Regions from separate parts of the Homo sapiens genome. Here region 2 is linked to region 1. Evidence: fine-mapped QTL for protein levels in blood plasma. Region 1 holds a variant in brackets. A gene starts in the other region. All regions are shown on their reverse strands.

Region 1 (8,342 bases):
CTTGACCTCAGATCTGTACCTCTTTTTGGGATTCCAATGTAGGTGAACTCACATATTTAATAAACATGTATTAAGTCTTTCCTTAGTGCCAGGCAGCATTTTGGGCAATGACAAGACAGAAAACAACAACAACAATAAACAGTCTCATGGAGGTTGGATCTCAACAGGGGAAACCCAGTGAATAGAGTCACTAACTATAAAGAAACATCTTCATGTGGCTGACCCCACCCTGACAAGTTCGCCACTCTAGGGATCTGAGGCCAATTGCTGACAGCTGAGAGACATGCATTTCTATAATTCTGAAGAATGGATTGACTTGTTCATAAGTTGATGATGTTATTTGAATACATGTGTTAAATATAATCCTGCTTCAACGGAAAGAGGTCAATCTCCTTGGCCTCACAAATGGCTGGGTTCCTACTGTAGGGCAGAAATAAAACAGAACATTCCCATGATGCAGAAGAATTCCTAAGGGGAACCAGATAACTGAGTATGAGGAGGGAACTTCATTATCAGATAATCTCCCTACTGCTCTGTTTGTGATGGAGACAGAGCAGCAGAGACACCACAGGCCTGGAGGCCCGCCCTGAGAAGGAGGCAAGGATGAAAGGAGGTAAAGAGAAGGGTGGATAAAAATGCCTGGGAGGGAGCTGGACAAACTGCAAATTAGTGTGCCCTGAAATCAGGCACCTAAGCGCTGACACCTCCCCTCTCGTGGTTTCTGATGTAGCTCCGGGGAGGTTTGATCACGAGCTTTAACAGCAGTCCTTTAGTGTGTAAGGCATCATCCCATGTTCTGTAGAATGTTCTGTCCTGACCCTCAGTGCTTTTGCTCCATACAAAGGAGCCAGGTCTCTCTCTGGGTGTGAAAAGTGATGTTCGAAATGAATCTCACTGAATACGAGGGAAGGGCAGCAATGAGTCCTGAGTCCCAGGAGATATCCAAAGAAAAAAGGTGTGTGAGACACTCAGTAACGGCAAGAGGATGTTGTCAGGTTTATATCACAGGAACAAGCTTTGGGCCTCAACCTAGTGACCTCTTTCCTTTGGTCTTACTCACCATGGTGTGGGTCACGCATATTTCACCACCTCAGCTGCTTCATCACTTGCTGGAGACCTCATCTCTCATGTGGAGAAAGCTACCGTCTCCTAATTAGACCCTCCACTTTCACTCTCTCCCCTCCTTTTTCATCTTCTTTGGAGAAGCTGGACTTTTCTCCTAAGTCTCCCATCAGACTCCGTGTCTTCCTTGCTTACAACTCCCTAAGGGCTTCCTATTGCTCTCCCCCTTCTGGCCAGTGTCACCTCTTGGATACACCACAATATGCCTTACTCCTATTGACTTGTTGGCCCTCACTTTTCTGCATGGTGTCAGTCCTGTGAAGACAGAATCCCTGTCTGTCTTCTCACCTCTGTATCCTTAGCATGAGACCTGAGCCTGGCACATAGTAGGTATTCAGTAAACAATAAGGACAAACAGAGATCTTTATTAGTGCACATGCCTGAGACAGACCCAGCTGGATTCTGTCCCTGCTTGCCCTGGCCTATCATGGCTGTATTCCCAGGGCAGCCTGTTCCAGAAATCAAGGACTTTCTGATTCTTCTGAGGCAGTCTGACAATGCTGTGGCCAAGGGCTCTCTCTGAAGTCTGGCCCTGAGAAAACAAAGCAGCATTCTCTAGATCACTGTCCCTAATCTGAGCCCTGGGTCCTGGTTAGCAGAAGCACCAGCAAACATGCACACAAATGGTAAACAGCCCTGCTGTCCTGGTTGTATGGTGCTGTAGTTAGGTCGTGCTCCTAGGAGACCTGACATGTTCCTGTCTCACTCCCCCAGACTGCAGCACTGTTTGGGCCTCCAGGGGGCTGTCTGAAGCCAACAGTTGAGATCAGCGTTGTCCTCAGCCTGGAGCCCAGAGATGCTTGGGAAGGCCTCCTTGCCAAACTGGTAGCCCGAGCATCCATCCTGGGTCCCTGCAGGCAGATATTTGCTTCTATACATCAGAAGTTTGGAGGCACTTCCTTGTCATTGTTGGTACCAGGACACAATTCCAAGAACCTTATTGCTGCTGATTCCAGTGCAGGAGATGGTGACTGGTTTTGTCACAGACAGACTGTGCAGGCTACCAAGTGAGCCCTGACTGCCCAGGACCCTGAGAGTCAGGAGAGAGGCACAGGGTGTGGGAGGAGGCATAAAGATGTGTAAAACCAGAGAGAAAAAGCACAAGGTATGACCCCCATTGTGGAAATATTGAGAACAAAAATGAAAGAATGCATCCAAATGAAGAAATTGGATTGTTTCTGATGAGACAGCTTTGCAGTGAACTTGGTGGTTTTTAATATTTTTATTTTATATAATAGGCATGTATTGGTTTGAAAGTAAATCAATAAAGCAAATTTTAGTCATATACAAAAAAAGAGTTTCTTCTCTTTGCTCTTAGCTCAGAAAGCCTATACACTGAAGATGCTTCTTTCTGGAGGTATTGGTTTGAAAGTAACTCAATAAAACAAACTTCAGTAATATGCAAAAAAAGTTTCTTTGCTCTTAGCTCAGAAAGCCTATACACTGAAGATGCTTCTTTCTGGAGGAAATGCATTTTGACCCAGCCTTTATATGTGATCCTGCTGTTAGTGTTCCTTTTAGAATAGAAAACAATTAACTTTTCCTTTTTTTTTTTTGATCCAGTTACTCCCAAATCATTCTTACATTTCCTACACATCAAGACTTAAGTAGAAATAGGAATCAATTCAAACCCTTTCCTTCCCCTTTCTATGGCTGGTCCACATGTAGGCTATCTTGGGATCTGGCATGTCTGATCATGTGATCTCCACATCACAAGGGCCGAGGGAGGTTTATGTCTTGGTTCCTCTCATGGGTCTGTCACTGTGCCGAGCACCACTATAGGAGAGCAAGCAGTAATACTCAGCCTCATCCTCAGGCTGCGCACCCAAAAGGGTCAGGGCAGCTTTGCCCCCAAGGAGGGAGCCTGAGAACCGGGCAGGTGTCCAGGAGTGTTTGTTGCTTGTATCATAAATCAGTGTCCTGGGGGCTTGGCCAGGCTTCTGCTGGAACCAGTAGGGATAATGACCACTGGTGACAGCTCCAGTGCTGGAGCCACAGGTGAGAGTGACTGTCCCTCCTGGGGACACAGTCAGTGAGGGCTCCTGAGTCACCACAGCCTGGGAATTGGACCCTGAAACAAAAAAAACAGACATATATTAGGAATTAGAAAGGGAGAAAAAGGGATCCCTCCAAAGGCTGGTATTTGAAATCTCTCTTAACCTGGGCAGCAAGTGAGGAGGAACAGAAAGAGAGGAGTCCAGGCCATGGTGCTGATATTGGAAGGGACCCCTGGTGCCAGAGCTGGGGCTGGATTCTGATGGCTCTTTATCTCCTATTGAGCTCTCCGCACGGAGGGGGTGTGCTGTGTGCTGCTTTATGCAAATCTTTACTGCCTTTATCACCACCTGGGTCCACAGCCCTGAGAGCAGCTACACTGTGGGGGGCCAGCCCAGGGTGGCTGTGTGCTGTGGATTTGTCCTGTGGGAGGAAGCAGCTGCTCTAACATTTCCATGAGTCAGTGAGCATCTGTGCAGGGTTCATTAAGTTTGAACCTCTTGAGCTTCTTACAATCCAAGAGACCCAGACCACCCCCTGGTGGCTTTCCTGGACTGAGAATGTGTTGTCTTTCACTTCTTTAACAAATAACTATTGATTTGTCTTTGGACATTGCCACAATATTTCCCAGGCCAATTCATACCCATTACTTGTCTATTCTTTGCTCATTCCTGTTTGTATTACTTTCTCTTGCTGTTGCTGAAATCCTGCCCCTGTGACTATAATGCGATTTTAGTGCTACATGGTGTTCGTTGCTATCTGAACACCAGATAACAACGTTTGAATGACTAAATATTTAGTTTGAATGACTAAATAATTGTTTTAATGACCTACTGACTTTTTGAAACTATTTGCGTTGAGCCTCATATTGGATAAACAGCTCGTTTATATGAGACTTTTTAAAATAATTTTCTTTAGAAAATTTTTTAAAAGAAAATGACCAAAGGTTGAAGATTGAAGTTTTATTGTCAATTCAGTGGAAACTCAAGTGAGCCATGAGGATGGTCATCAAGGTCTACATAACAACCCCACTCTCACCCACCCCACCA[A/C]TCAAAATTTTTCTGGACACCAAGCCTGGGTGAGCTTTGCTGGTTGGCAATGCTTCCTACATAGAATCACACATTGTTGCCGGCAGAATGCAGCGTTGTCTATTACTCCACTGGGAGAGGACAAATGGATGCTTGTGCTTGGAATTCTCCTGAACTCTGCCCATGTGTCTCTTTCCTTGAATTATTTTAATCTGTATTATTTCACTGTAGAAAAATCACATTAATGAATGTCACAGTTTTCAGTGAGTCATGTGAGTCCTTCTAGGGACTCATAAGAAGTGAAGGGCTGTTTGGGGTCCCTGAGCTGAAAATTAGCTTCAGAATTGAGAGTGCTCTTGGGAATCTTCAGACCTCCCAGTTTCCAATCTTGCATTATTCTTTTTTTTAACTTCAAAACAAATTTTATTTAGAAAGAGTTTTTCATGTTGTTGATGATGCAAGCAAACTTTTTTCACAATTACACTTCTAGAGATCTAGTAGTTTCAGAGATCTAAGTCTTCAAAGGTATGTTTTAAAATTAATAACAAAACCAAATCCACACCGACAAGAAATCACTTTTTGCTTGGTTTGGAAGGGACAGCCATTGATACCAGGTGTTCTCAGAAACGGGCTCACCACTTCCTTGGAAAACAGATAGCATGGAATCAGTGTCCACAGAAGGAAATGTCTTTAAATATGTTTGTTTTTGGGACAAGGTTATTTATTCCTGGAAAATGCAGTAAGATAAAAAGTCCCAGCTGGCAAGGTATGCAGTACAGCACCAGTTTTACAGAGGGATTACAAGATCTTGGGATCAGTAGCTGTTGGCTTATGGCACAGAATATGAGCAGTCACTGGAAGTGGAAGAAGAATGATGATGAGCAGGGAGTCTCTCCCAGTCTTATTCAGCCTTTTCACTTGCTAAATGGATAGGCTATGTTCTGTAGCATCTTTGGGAAAACATTTGAGACAGTTCAAAAAACAACAACAACTACAGAAGCCGTCCAGTATCATTCCCCAGAAAGTCCATATTTGAAAAGAAAGAGGGACCTGTTCAGGGTTCCCATGGAGGACTGTGCCTCCATCCACTTCTGTCTCCAGGAGATACAAGACATCAGCCAGAGTGTGCTCTACCACAGCATCCCAGCCCATGTCACTCATAAGGGAGTAAGCGAGATCCTTTGGAGGACACTCGCAGCACAGTCCAAAGTTAATGCAAACCATGCAGTTGTTTTCCTGTGAGATGGCTGGAAATCAACCCCCTCAAAAATACCTTTTATTCAACATATTAATTGACACCATTTTTATAAAATATTATTTGCCTGTGCAGAATCTGTTTTAGGCTCTTCTGTGCTTTATCCAAAATGTCTTTTTCCTCAAAATACAAATAATTCTTGTATTTTATCAAAGCCTTATCTTTGTAAGTATCAGGCAATAACTTGGCTGTCTCTGTGTTTTCAGGAAGATTAATATAAAATCCCAAGACCTGTCCTCATCCGTAGCTAGAAGAGTATTATTTGCCAGTGGACAGGTGGAACTTGGTTCCCTTTTGCTCTGCCAAGAATAGCTAAGTTTATCATAACCTAAGGGAGATTGATGGTTACCTTAGGACTGAGACCAACCCCATTGGCAGTGGTGTCTGGTGACAACTCATCCTTGATGATTTCAAAGTCCCAGGTCCCTTTCCATACCCCATGAGAGGCCTGCATCATAGAGTAACCCTTCTTTCCAACCACAGTCAGCCAGCTGGTCATTGGAGATCTTTACCTGGAGAGCTTAATCATGTTAGACTAACAAAACCTGTTCACAGAAACAGGCTCCGTAGAGGTCTTCAGGAATAATTTCTCCTGCCTAGCAGTCTTCAACCTTCTGAGGACCAAGGGTGTGTGGCTCAGGCTCGGTTGGAATATACCAGTAGCCATCCTTGTTAAATGGGTGTTTTAAAAGGTGTAAGGGGCAAGGCGCTGAGCAGAAAACAAAGGGTCACTCTGGGCCTTCTTGGTGGTCTCTGAGATCTCATCTTGCTGTTTGCACTGAACTCCTCTTCCTCTTTTCTGCTGCTTCCTGTTCAGTTGCCCCATTCAGATTCCCACTCACAGACAGGGCACTGCTTTGCTTTTGCTTGTCATAAACAGGATCAGTTTTACCAAAGTCCTGATCCAAAAGTCCAAATCTTGGGCAATCTTCTTTCAGGTCTTTACTCCCTGGATCCAGGAGGTCCTTTACCAAGAATAAATCTCTCTCTTTACTCATTGTTTTAACGATGTTATCCAGCCTAGTCATTTTCCCAGGTGTCTGAATGGTCATCATGCACTCCCAGTATTTATCAATAAATGCTATAGCATTCATCCTGTGTTTGGGACTGCCATGCCAGCTTAACCAAAGCACTATGAAAACTGTAGTTGGTCATGAAAGGTAGACAGGATGACATGTCTTTGCCAGATATATCAACTATGAGCCATTTTCATAGGACAGCAGATGTCCCTCTCCAGCTGGAGAGGCTGCTACCATTGCCACCAGCTTCATCTCCCCTTCTTTGGCCATAGTTGCACTAGAGGCTGCTCCTGGACTGGGTCAGGCACCCACCCCTACCATCATGGCCATTCTCAGACTTTCTCATGTTATTTTGTGTCACCTGTAATGAGGTACCTCCAACTCTATTGGTCTGTTAGGATGCTGTGGGGCTGGCACAGAAGGAAGGGTGTCCTGGCTACTCAGGCACACTCTCCTAGTCCTGTATATTTTTATTGTTCTTGTAACTGCACCAAATATAAATCTTTTTGTTTTTGACAGTGGTAAATTATTCAAACACAAAACACATATTTTAACCATTTTCAACCACACGCTTCAGTGTCATTAAGTAAAGTAATATTGTTGTACAGTCACGTACCACCATTCGTCTCCAGGAATTTTTCATCCTCCCAAACCAAAATTTCATGCCTGGAAAACATCATTCTACTTCTTGTCTCTATGGATTTCACTACTCTAGGTACCTCATATAAGAGCAAACAGACAACATTTGTCCTTTTGAAACCAGCTTATTTCTGTTGGCATGATGTCTTTAGGGTTCATCCATGCCATCGCATGGGTCAGAACTTTCTTTTTAAGGTTGAATACTATTCCCTTGTGTGTGTATACTATATTCCGTTTATCCATTAGATGACACTTGGGCTGCCTCCACCTTTTAGCTATTGTGAATGATGCTGCTACGAACAAGGGTGGACAATTTTGAGATCCTGCTTTCAATTCTTTGAGGCACATGCCCAGAAGTGAAAATTCTGATAAAATGGTAATTCTATGTTTAGTTTTCTGAGCAACTGTCATCAAGGCCACCTCAGTGGATGCATCATTTTATAGTCCCTCCAGCAATGCATTACAGTTATAATTTCTATACATCTTTGCTACAACTTATTATTTTCCATTATTTGGGTAAAGCCATCCTAATGGGTGTGGGTCCCGATTTTGTTTTGGGTTGTTTCCTATTTGCTCAAGTATTGAAATGTAAGAGATTTTCTTTCTTTCTTTCTTTCTTTCTTTCTTTCTTTCTTTCTTTCTTTCTTTCTTTCTTCCTTCCTTCCTTCTTTCTTTTCTTTCTTTCTTTCTTTCTTTCTTTTCCTTCCTCCTTTCTTTCTGTCTTTCTTTCTTTCCTTTCTTCTTTCATCTCTCTCTCTCTCTTTTTGTAGAGACAGGGCCTTGCTTTGTTGCCCAGGCTGTTCTTGAACTCTTGACCACAAGCAGTCCTCCCACCTCAGCCTCTCAAAGTGTTAGGATTATATGCATGAGTCACCATGCCCAGCCATGAGATAATTTTACATGGTGATTTTTGTATTCAGAAATATTACCGAATACATTTAATCATTCTGACAAAGTTTTCTTTTGTGGGACTTTTAAGGGTATTCTACATATGACATTAAATCAAATGAAAACAGAGATAATTTTACTTTTTATTTCTAATTTTTATTCTGTTTATTTCTTTCTCTTGCCTAATTACTCTGGCTAGGTCTTCCAATACTGTCTTAATAGAAGTGGTGAAAATGTGCATTGTTGCTTTGATCCTGATAGATATTACAAAAACATATCTTTGGTCTTTCAGATTGCATGCGATGTTAGTTGTAGGATTTTCATAGATGGCCTTTACTATGTTGAGGAAGTTTCCTTCTATTCATAGTTTGTTGAGTGTTTTTATCATGAAAGGGT
Region 2 (8,278 bases), not on the chromosome of region 1:
GATCTACTTTTCTGGAAAAGGGTGAGCTCTGTATTGATCTGCAGTGACTCTGTTTAGATATTAAAGTAGGTTCTGAAAAGCGACCTGTGTGGTCCCTCTGATTAGACTAGTTAATGTCTATGTGATGGGCATTTATTTATCTTTATTAGCAAGGTTTAAAAGAGCAAATTATCAAGACACCTATATCTTTTGGCCAGACTATATAATATTTTGTCAGAGTATGTGAAGAGGAGACCCAATTTCCAAATGAAGGAACTTTGCTTTTTCTCTGTCATGTTGAAGAGCTAATATACTGTGTAGATTTTCCCCTAAATATGGCTTTCTTAGCTTTATAGATGTTGAGATAATATCTTTTGAGGAACACATGTCAAGCAGGAACCTTGGCATAGATTTGGTTTCAGTTGTTTTAAGGCTTAATTAATGAAATGCCTTAATCAGCTTTCCAAACATTTTTATATATGAATACAGCAGACCAAGGAGCTGGATCTCCTGCTATCCTTACACGCCTTGTATCTATCAACTAAAGCTGTCATTAATGACTTGGGCAAAATGGCAAGAGGTATAATAAAGTCTTCCTGTGAATTAGCCAGTAGGGTCTGACACAACTAGTCAACTAACAAGGTTCCTGACTAGTACCTCAGTATTTCAGCACCTTAAGCACTGATAAATTTCAATCAGTCAACAATAAAGTGAGTGTTCCAACTAGACTTGTTGTCTTGCTTGTTCTTACTGTTTGGTGATTAATAGAAAATTCAATAATTATGACAGTTAATAGTATAATTCAAATGAGATTTACTTTATTTTTCAAATAATCTGAATTTTAAAAGTTTTTTTTCATTTGTACTTGAATAGCAATGGAATTTTTTAAATGCCGTTAGGGATAAGGACAATTCTTAGACATGTTTTACAGAAACCTACATTTTTGGAAAAGGATGAATGATCTTTGATAAATTTAATCAATCCAGAGGTGAAAGTAGATCCTGAAGGATGATCTATCTCATGTATAAGACTAGCTAGTAGATGTCATTGAGACTTAGGCATTTCATTACAATAGTGATGGCATCTTTATGACATCTCTAGGAAAATGTAGTAGTATATCAACCCTAGAGGGTAACTCCAAAACTTTGAAGCTGAAGAATAATTGCTCTTGCAATTCTGGTGATCTAAAACAGTGAACTAAGCTACATAGAGCTGTTTGGTTTGATCTTGAGTTTCTCCAAGTCTCCAGGTTCATGATGCATATCATCATCATTTCCAAATCTCAGAGTTTCCTCAAGAGAGGGCAACCACATTTGTAACTGTCTTCTTTCTGTCAATTAAGTGTGTGTATTAATTACTAGGGCTAGGTCTTTTCATTCCTTTGCACGTTTTAAGCAGGAATAGATGAGGCAAAGCCCATTTGTAGGTTATTTTTTAGTTTAACTATGTTAAATTAAACTATGTTGGTCAGGCTGGTCTCAAATTCCCGACCTCGTGATCCACCCACCTTGGTCAACCAAAGTGCTGGGATTATAGGCGTGAGTCACCACGCCTGGCCCAACAAAAATTTTTTTTAAATTTGCAGGGTGTTGGCCAGGCGCAGTGGCTCACGCCTGTAATCCCAGCACTTTGGGAGACCGAGGCGGGTGGATCACAAGGTCAGGAGATGGAGACCATCCTGGCTAACACGGTGAAACCCCGTCTCTACTAAAAATACAAAAAATTAGCTGGGCGTGGTGGCGGGCGCCTGTAATCCCAGCTACTCGGGAGGCTGAGGCAGGAGAATGGCATGAACCGGGAGGCGGAGCTTGCAGTGAGCCGAGATAGCGCCACTGCACTCCAGCCTGGGCAACAGAGCGGGACTCCGTCTCAAAAAAAAAAAAAAAAAAATTTGCAGGGTGTGGTGGGACGCACCTGTGATCCCAGCTACTCTGGAGGCTGAGGTGGGAGGCCATGAAGGTCAAGGCTGCAGTGAGCCATGATGGCACAACTGTGCTCCAGCGTGGGTAACACAAGACCCTGTCTCAAACAACAAAAATAAACAAAAAATTTATTTTCGAATTTGTCTTTGATCTAGGTTAGTTATTAGATCTGAAATTCTGAAACTACTGTCATAAACCTTATCTACAGGGGAAACAATGTTGAAGGTCAATAGGCTACTCATCCTTTTTGCTTTCAGAGGCATTATGTCATTTAATCTTTACAACAGACCTATCGTAATTATTATCATCAGCATTTTACAGATGATCAGAGATTCGTTTTTACATGAGGTAAGAAACACATAAAATTTACTATCATAACCATTTTTAAGTGTACAGTTCACTAGATTTAACTATATCCACATTGTTGTTCATTTGTATAATTTTGAAAGTTTATGGCAGCGGTTCAGAAATAAAATGTCTCACCACAGTCAAATATAATCTGGTAATTTGAAACTTCAAATGTTATAAATGTATTAGAAACTGTTGTATTATTTCTAATGGCAGGGTAGTAATAAGGATTATAGTTCATGAATGTGGTAATTAGCCAGAAATTCATTTTCTTTTTGCCTATGTTCTTCTCATTAATCATATTTTACCCTTTGGCTTGTATTTATGACATGGACTTATTTGGAGTCTTACATTGAAGGCATAGGTCTGATCCATAGTATTATTTCACCTCCCAAAGATTGAAAAGAAAATAACAGTTGGATTCCAGACATCTGACATCAACCTGATTTGAAAGTTCCATATAGGCACAGTTTAGACAGAGCTACTGAATTTAAATTAGTAAGAGCTGAAGAAAAGCTAAGCATAAAATGGACAGAGCCCTTCCCAGGGTAGCAGACATAAGCAGCAATAAATCAGTAAGTACTAAAACACAGGATCACTTTATTCTGGCTTTCTGCCATTTATAGACACTCAAACTTGGAATGAGCAGAAATCCTTTTGAACTTATATTTGCAAAACCTTGTGTCCATTCTTTTATCTTCCGGATTACCTTTATTTTTTTCTGTTTATTTCCTCATACCATCATCTATGCTCTGTTGGGTGCAGAGTCTGCTTAGATATCTTTGAGTGGCCCTGATTTGCATGTGGTAGCTTGCTTACCCAGAGAAAGGTACTCGGGATCGAATTGGATGCAGTTTAGCTGTGGCTCAGTAGAGGGAGTAGAGGAGCTGAGGGAGGGGGGAGAGCGAAAGAACGGGTCTGGTTAAGTAAGTGTTGTGTGTGAGCACCAGGAGGAGGGGGGCAGGGTGGGGAGTGGTTGCCTCTAGCAGCTCCACCCTCACTTTGTCAGCAGGTAGAGAGCGTGATTGCAGTCCCAGGGGAGGGAGTCAGAGCTAGAACACCAATTACAAACCACAGGCTTCCTGCTCTAGGGAGTTGATCCAGAATTGTCTTTCTGAAAGGAAGCACTCGGAATCCTTCCGAACTTTCCAAGTCCATCCATGATTCAGAGATACTGCCTTCTCTCTCTCTGGGATTTTATGTGTTTCTGATAGTGAATTGTTGATGTATTTGCTACTTTGCTTCTTTTCTCTTTCAAGACTTGATCATTTTATATGCTGTTTGGAGAAAAAAAGAACTTTTGTTAGCAAGGAGGTTTCAGAAATGATTTTGGATTTTCTGTAAGTGTTTAATTTAGTTCTAGGGGACAGCATCTCTCATCCCGGAGTAAATTTCTGCCTTTGACCTGCATGGATTATTTTTTCAGGCTGCGGAATTTCTCGGCACCTACCTGTAGTATGGGGCACTTGGTTTGGTTGCAGAGTAAGAAGGTGGAAGAATGAGCTGTACTTGGTTAAGCAGTTGAAACCTTTTTTGAGCAGGATCTGTAAAAGCATAATTGAATTTGTTTCACCCCCGTGGATTCCAGTGGGCCCGACAGCGCAACAGGTTTGCAGATTTCTTTTGAAATTCCTTTTTCCCCCCTCCCTCTGCCTCAGCAAAAGAAAAGAATCCATATAACAGGTTCATGTTCAATTGCTTGGCTTTTCAGCACTTATTCTGAAGACTTTATAATATTTTTAAACTTGACCTTGGAACACAGAGGGCTTTGTGGGTGAGGTGTATTTATATTTACTTAAGGGTGCACATTTTAAAAATCTTATTCTGTGTTTGTACAAAGACGCAAATTTTCATAGTGCCTAGAAATAGCACAGATCTATTCTACTCAAGATTATTTGTATTTTTTCAGGGTATTCTACCTAGAGCCTGTGGTTAATCGCCTCCCTGCTCCCCCTACCTTTTATTCCCTACCCCCTCAGGGAATTTGGATACATGTGAGGAATAGTCCTTTGTTTTTCTTATGAACCTAGAAAATTACAGATCATAAAATCTGGATATTAAAGTAGTTTCCAAAAGCATCTCATGGGAAATCAAAGTGCTCGGCATTTCCGAGCTGGAGAATAAAATCAAGAATCCTTAAGAGAGAAAAGAAAATGGAGATGGAAATATGAATTTTAACTGGGAAAAATAATTGGAAAGCTAACCTTTTCAAATACTCTAATTATGAAAGTTGGAAAAGGTTGTGATGCTCAGGATTATCCTGTAATGTGTGAAGATACATAAATTAGCACCTAATTTATAGGCAAATTTTGGTAAAACACAAAAAATTATGGTATGTCTAAGTTCATGAAAAGTATGTAAATGCAGTGGGCCTAGAAACCTGGCCACACTGAAATACAGTTTAATGTGGAAACTTTTCTAAATACATATTGTAGCATCTTTGGACATCAACGTGTGGCCTGAAATTTTTATTATTGTTCCCTCTTCTCCTCCATTAAAAAAAAAATCTCCTTGTGGTATTTAGTCATTTACCATTAACACATATTATGGCTTAAAAAGGGCCATCCCTTCCTTTTCTGAGCTGGAGTTCTTCACGCTCACCTTTGATGCATGGCCTTAGCTGTTTACTTTGCCTTGTTTTGTTCATGAACATTGGGTTTAGTGCCTGGCAACTTGATGCATATGGAAGAGCAATGCCAAGTGATCTGACATAATACAAATTCACGAAGTGACATTCAATCACAAGCAAAGTTGGAAATTCCAAAGAGAAGTGGTGAGATCTTTACTAGTCACAGTGAAGATGGGAGAAAATGACATACCTGCAGCAGATGTGGGCTGAAAATATCCTCTTCTCTGCCCAATCAGGAATGCTACCTGTTTTTGGGAATAAACTTTAGAGAAAGGAAGGGCCAAAACTACGACTTGGCTTTCTGAAACGGAAGCATAAATGTTCTTTTCCTCCATTTGTCTGGATCTGAGAACCTGCATTTGGTATTAGCTAGTGGAAGCAGTATGTATGGTTGAAGTGCATTGCTGCAGCTGGTAGCATGAGTGGTGGCCACCAGCTGCAGCTGGCTGCCCTCTGGCCCTGGCTGCTGATGGCTACCCTGCAGGCAGGCTTTGGACGCACAGGACTGGTACTGGCAGCAGCGGTGGAGTCTGAAAGATCAGCAGAACAGAAAGCTATTATCAGAGTGATCCCCTTGAAAATGGACCCCACAGGAAAACTGAATCTCACTTTGGAAGGTGTGTTTGCTGGTGTTGCTGAAATAACTCCAGCAGAAGGAAAATTAATGCAGGCAAGTATAACTTTATTATATTTCACTTTCCATCTGTTTGAAATATGTCTTTCTTCTTTTGTCTCCCAAATGAAATACCATACACGGGCTTCTACTGCTTAGCTTTCTATTTCATAGAAAGAGTAGATACTGCCTTATTGGCATTCTAAATTTAGCAAATTATTATTTTATACTCTGGAGGAAATACATAAATCCTATATTTTAGAAGATTATCTGCTTATTTTAAACTGGTGTTGCATAACTACTTAGATAGACATAATAATACCTTTTTTTCAAGTGATATATTCTGGGCACTAATTTTTGATAGATGAAATATATGAGCTTATATTTAATTGATGCGAGGATTGTATTTTACATCCTGTTTAAATTGAAGTAAGCACTAAGAAGGTTGATTTTAATGGTCAGCAGCACCTGAAATTCTGGAATGCCCTTGGAGCATATTTGATTACTGTGTCACTTAAAATTCAGTCAAGCTTGAATGCTATGGCTGGCCTTACACCACGTGTGGCACCCTATTGCTAACCCCAAAATGGAGAGGACTGGATTACAAAATGGACACAAGGTGTAAACCTGCCTCCTGATCACTTTGGCCTTGTCCACACATAATTTTATCATTTTCAGGAATTTAAATTTAACATGTTTTTTACTGATCCGCCAAGTTTTTCAGACATAGTTTCTTAGGCTTTCAGGCTGTGAATTTTGCCTGTAAGTCATTCATACATGGCCTATTCTTTATGTGGTGAATTTATGAAATGACTGGGGGCACAGCATTTCATAGACCAATTGCTCATTCCCCATAGTAAAGACAGAGCCTAGAGGGCTATACCTTTTTAATGGGCATTCCATTGTCTTACTCCATAAAATGATGTTGCTTATTGATTGAAATTTATCATGTAAAAGAACACTTCTTGCTGTAGCTACTGGACACAGGTTAAAATATTCTTAAGTGTGATCCATCTTAGCATCCAAACTCAAATTTTAATTTTGTGGTATGAACAGACTATGAACAGAACCAATTTATTGTATGAATTTTAATTTTTGTCTACTTAAAGAAGATAGGAAAATTTAACAGATTATAGAACTTATTCCTAAACATGTATTCTTTAATATATGGTTTAGTGGTTATTCATTATCACTTCTTAGGCAATATTTTGAAGCTGGGATAAATGAAGTGAAGGAGAATTAGGTGAAAATGGAAGGCTTTGCTATTTAGAAAAATAGGAAAGAAGAGTATATCTGGAAAAATGGCATAAGATTTTTTTGAATAAGATAATTTGGATTCTAAAATGGAATTAGGAATACTTAAAAGCTGAACTCATAAATCATCTTGAATACTATGGCAATTGGAAAGGAAACTTCCTTCCTGGCCTTGCCTAGTTAATACCCTGAAGCATGAATTGTGTGCTCCATTTTAGGACCGTAAGTAATTTTGCTAGTCATATTTTGATATCACTGAAGTTTTTGAGAGCCATACGTGCCTTATTGATAACCTGTGATAGCATGTTCAGTGGGCTAATTATGTGTTCCATAAAATAATGTATTCTTTTAAGTTTTAATCTTATTATCATAAAGCTCTACATAAAGTTTGTGTTTTCATAAAGGAAAAAGTAAACAAACAGCACCAGTTGGCATTCTCTTTGCCATTCATTATTTTATCAATCTTTATCATGTCTTCTATTGTTCTATCGTTTTTCTCACTCTGGCAAATCTTACCAATCTATTTTGTTTTTTAAACTATTAACTTTGATCCTATCATTATACATTAAGTATTGCTTTTACTTTGTGAAGAGGGAATTTCATCATAACTTAGCAAAGACTTTCAGCCTTTACAGTGGATAGTTTTATGTCATTGGCAATTTTTAGTCATCTCCTTTCTGTCCACATATGCTTCGTTTAGGTCTTTAAATAAGTTTTTTCACTAGCTTAGTATTCATTTCTGGATACTTTCCATATTGGTTTCGGTTTATTGTCTGTTAATCAATTTTTAATCTACAACAGTTATTAAAGTTTTTCAACAGCCTCTTGTGAGAAACTTTTTTAAAAAACAAGCTTCTGAATTATATATATGGTTTTCTTTATCCATTCTTTGATTAATTCTTTCAAAGAACTCTAGTGTGTTAGGGACACATGGTTTACACTTCTGGAATCCATGCTGTTTGTTCCTTATCAGATTACACTGCAACTCAGGTTTACTCAACTGTGGTTAGCCAAGCCTTCCATTTAACTGAAGTTCTGTTTATATCTTCTAGAGATGTGCTTTGCTGAACTTTAGCTTTCTCAATGGAGAGCTGTACCCTGGTGTCAGAAATCTAAAAGTAGTCTTCTCTTCGGTTTTGAGGAATTCTGGATAATTCTGTGAATCCTTCTACCTATGAATTGTTGTAGTTACCTGTTAAGATTATTTGTCTCCAAAGATTGCAGTCAAATCTTTTTAAACTTGAGGATGCTATGTATGTACCAAAAAATGTACAGTTATGAGAACAGTGATTTAAAAAAAAAAAAACCATGTTGTTATTTCTGGAATTCTGAGATAATTTCTGAAAATCAGACATTTCTTTACATTTTGCTCAATTAATTCAGTGTATAGACAATTTCATAAGGACCAAACTGACTGAATTTTCATTTGTATTATGATTTTAATTTTTTCTTAGACAAAAGGAGACCCCCCCCCTTGACAATGTGCCCCCAATTTGTTGAATAGTAAAATAGACCATAGAATTGCCTCTAAAA

Direction of the effects. Alleles are on the strand shown, and positions count from the first base shown. The strength of an association depends on the size of the effect and on how common the allele is.
In carriers of allele C in region 1, the plasma level of the protein whose gene starts at base 3,340 in region 2 tends to be higher than with A alone (strong association).

What was found. PIP is the posterior inclusion probability: the model's chance that the variant is causal. The UK Biobank Pharma Proteomics Project read protein levels with antibody pairs (Olink). The fine-mapping took linkage between variants from a reference panel, not from the people measured, so its PIPs are less certain.
Region 2: it holds the start of RNF43, and the variant in region 1 is fine-mapped to the plasma level of the RNF43 protein (UK Biobank, PIP above 0.99).

The regions. Positions count from the first base shown.
Region 1 is chr22:22,364,634-22,372,975 of GRCh38, reverse strand. It overlaps IGL, the pseudogene ASH2LP2 and IGLV7-46. Among named protein-coding and RNA genes, the nearest start is that of VPREB1, 120 kb to the right of the region's middle. The variant A/C (reference allele first, on the strand shown) is at 4,167.
Region 2 is chr17:58,412,596-58,420,873 of GRCh38, reverse strand. It overlaps RNF43 (ring finger protein 43), which reads left to right and starts at 3,340. Exons shown (of 10, transcript NM_017763.6): 1 at 3,340-3,857; 2 at 4,912-5,548. The coding sequence starts at 5,297. It overlaps HSF5 (heat shock transcription factor 5), which reads left to right. Exons shown (of 6, transcript NM_001080439.3): 6 at 1-707.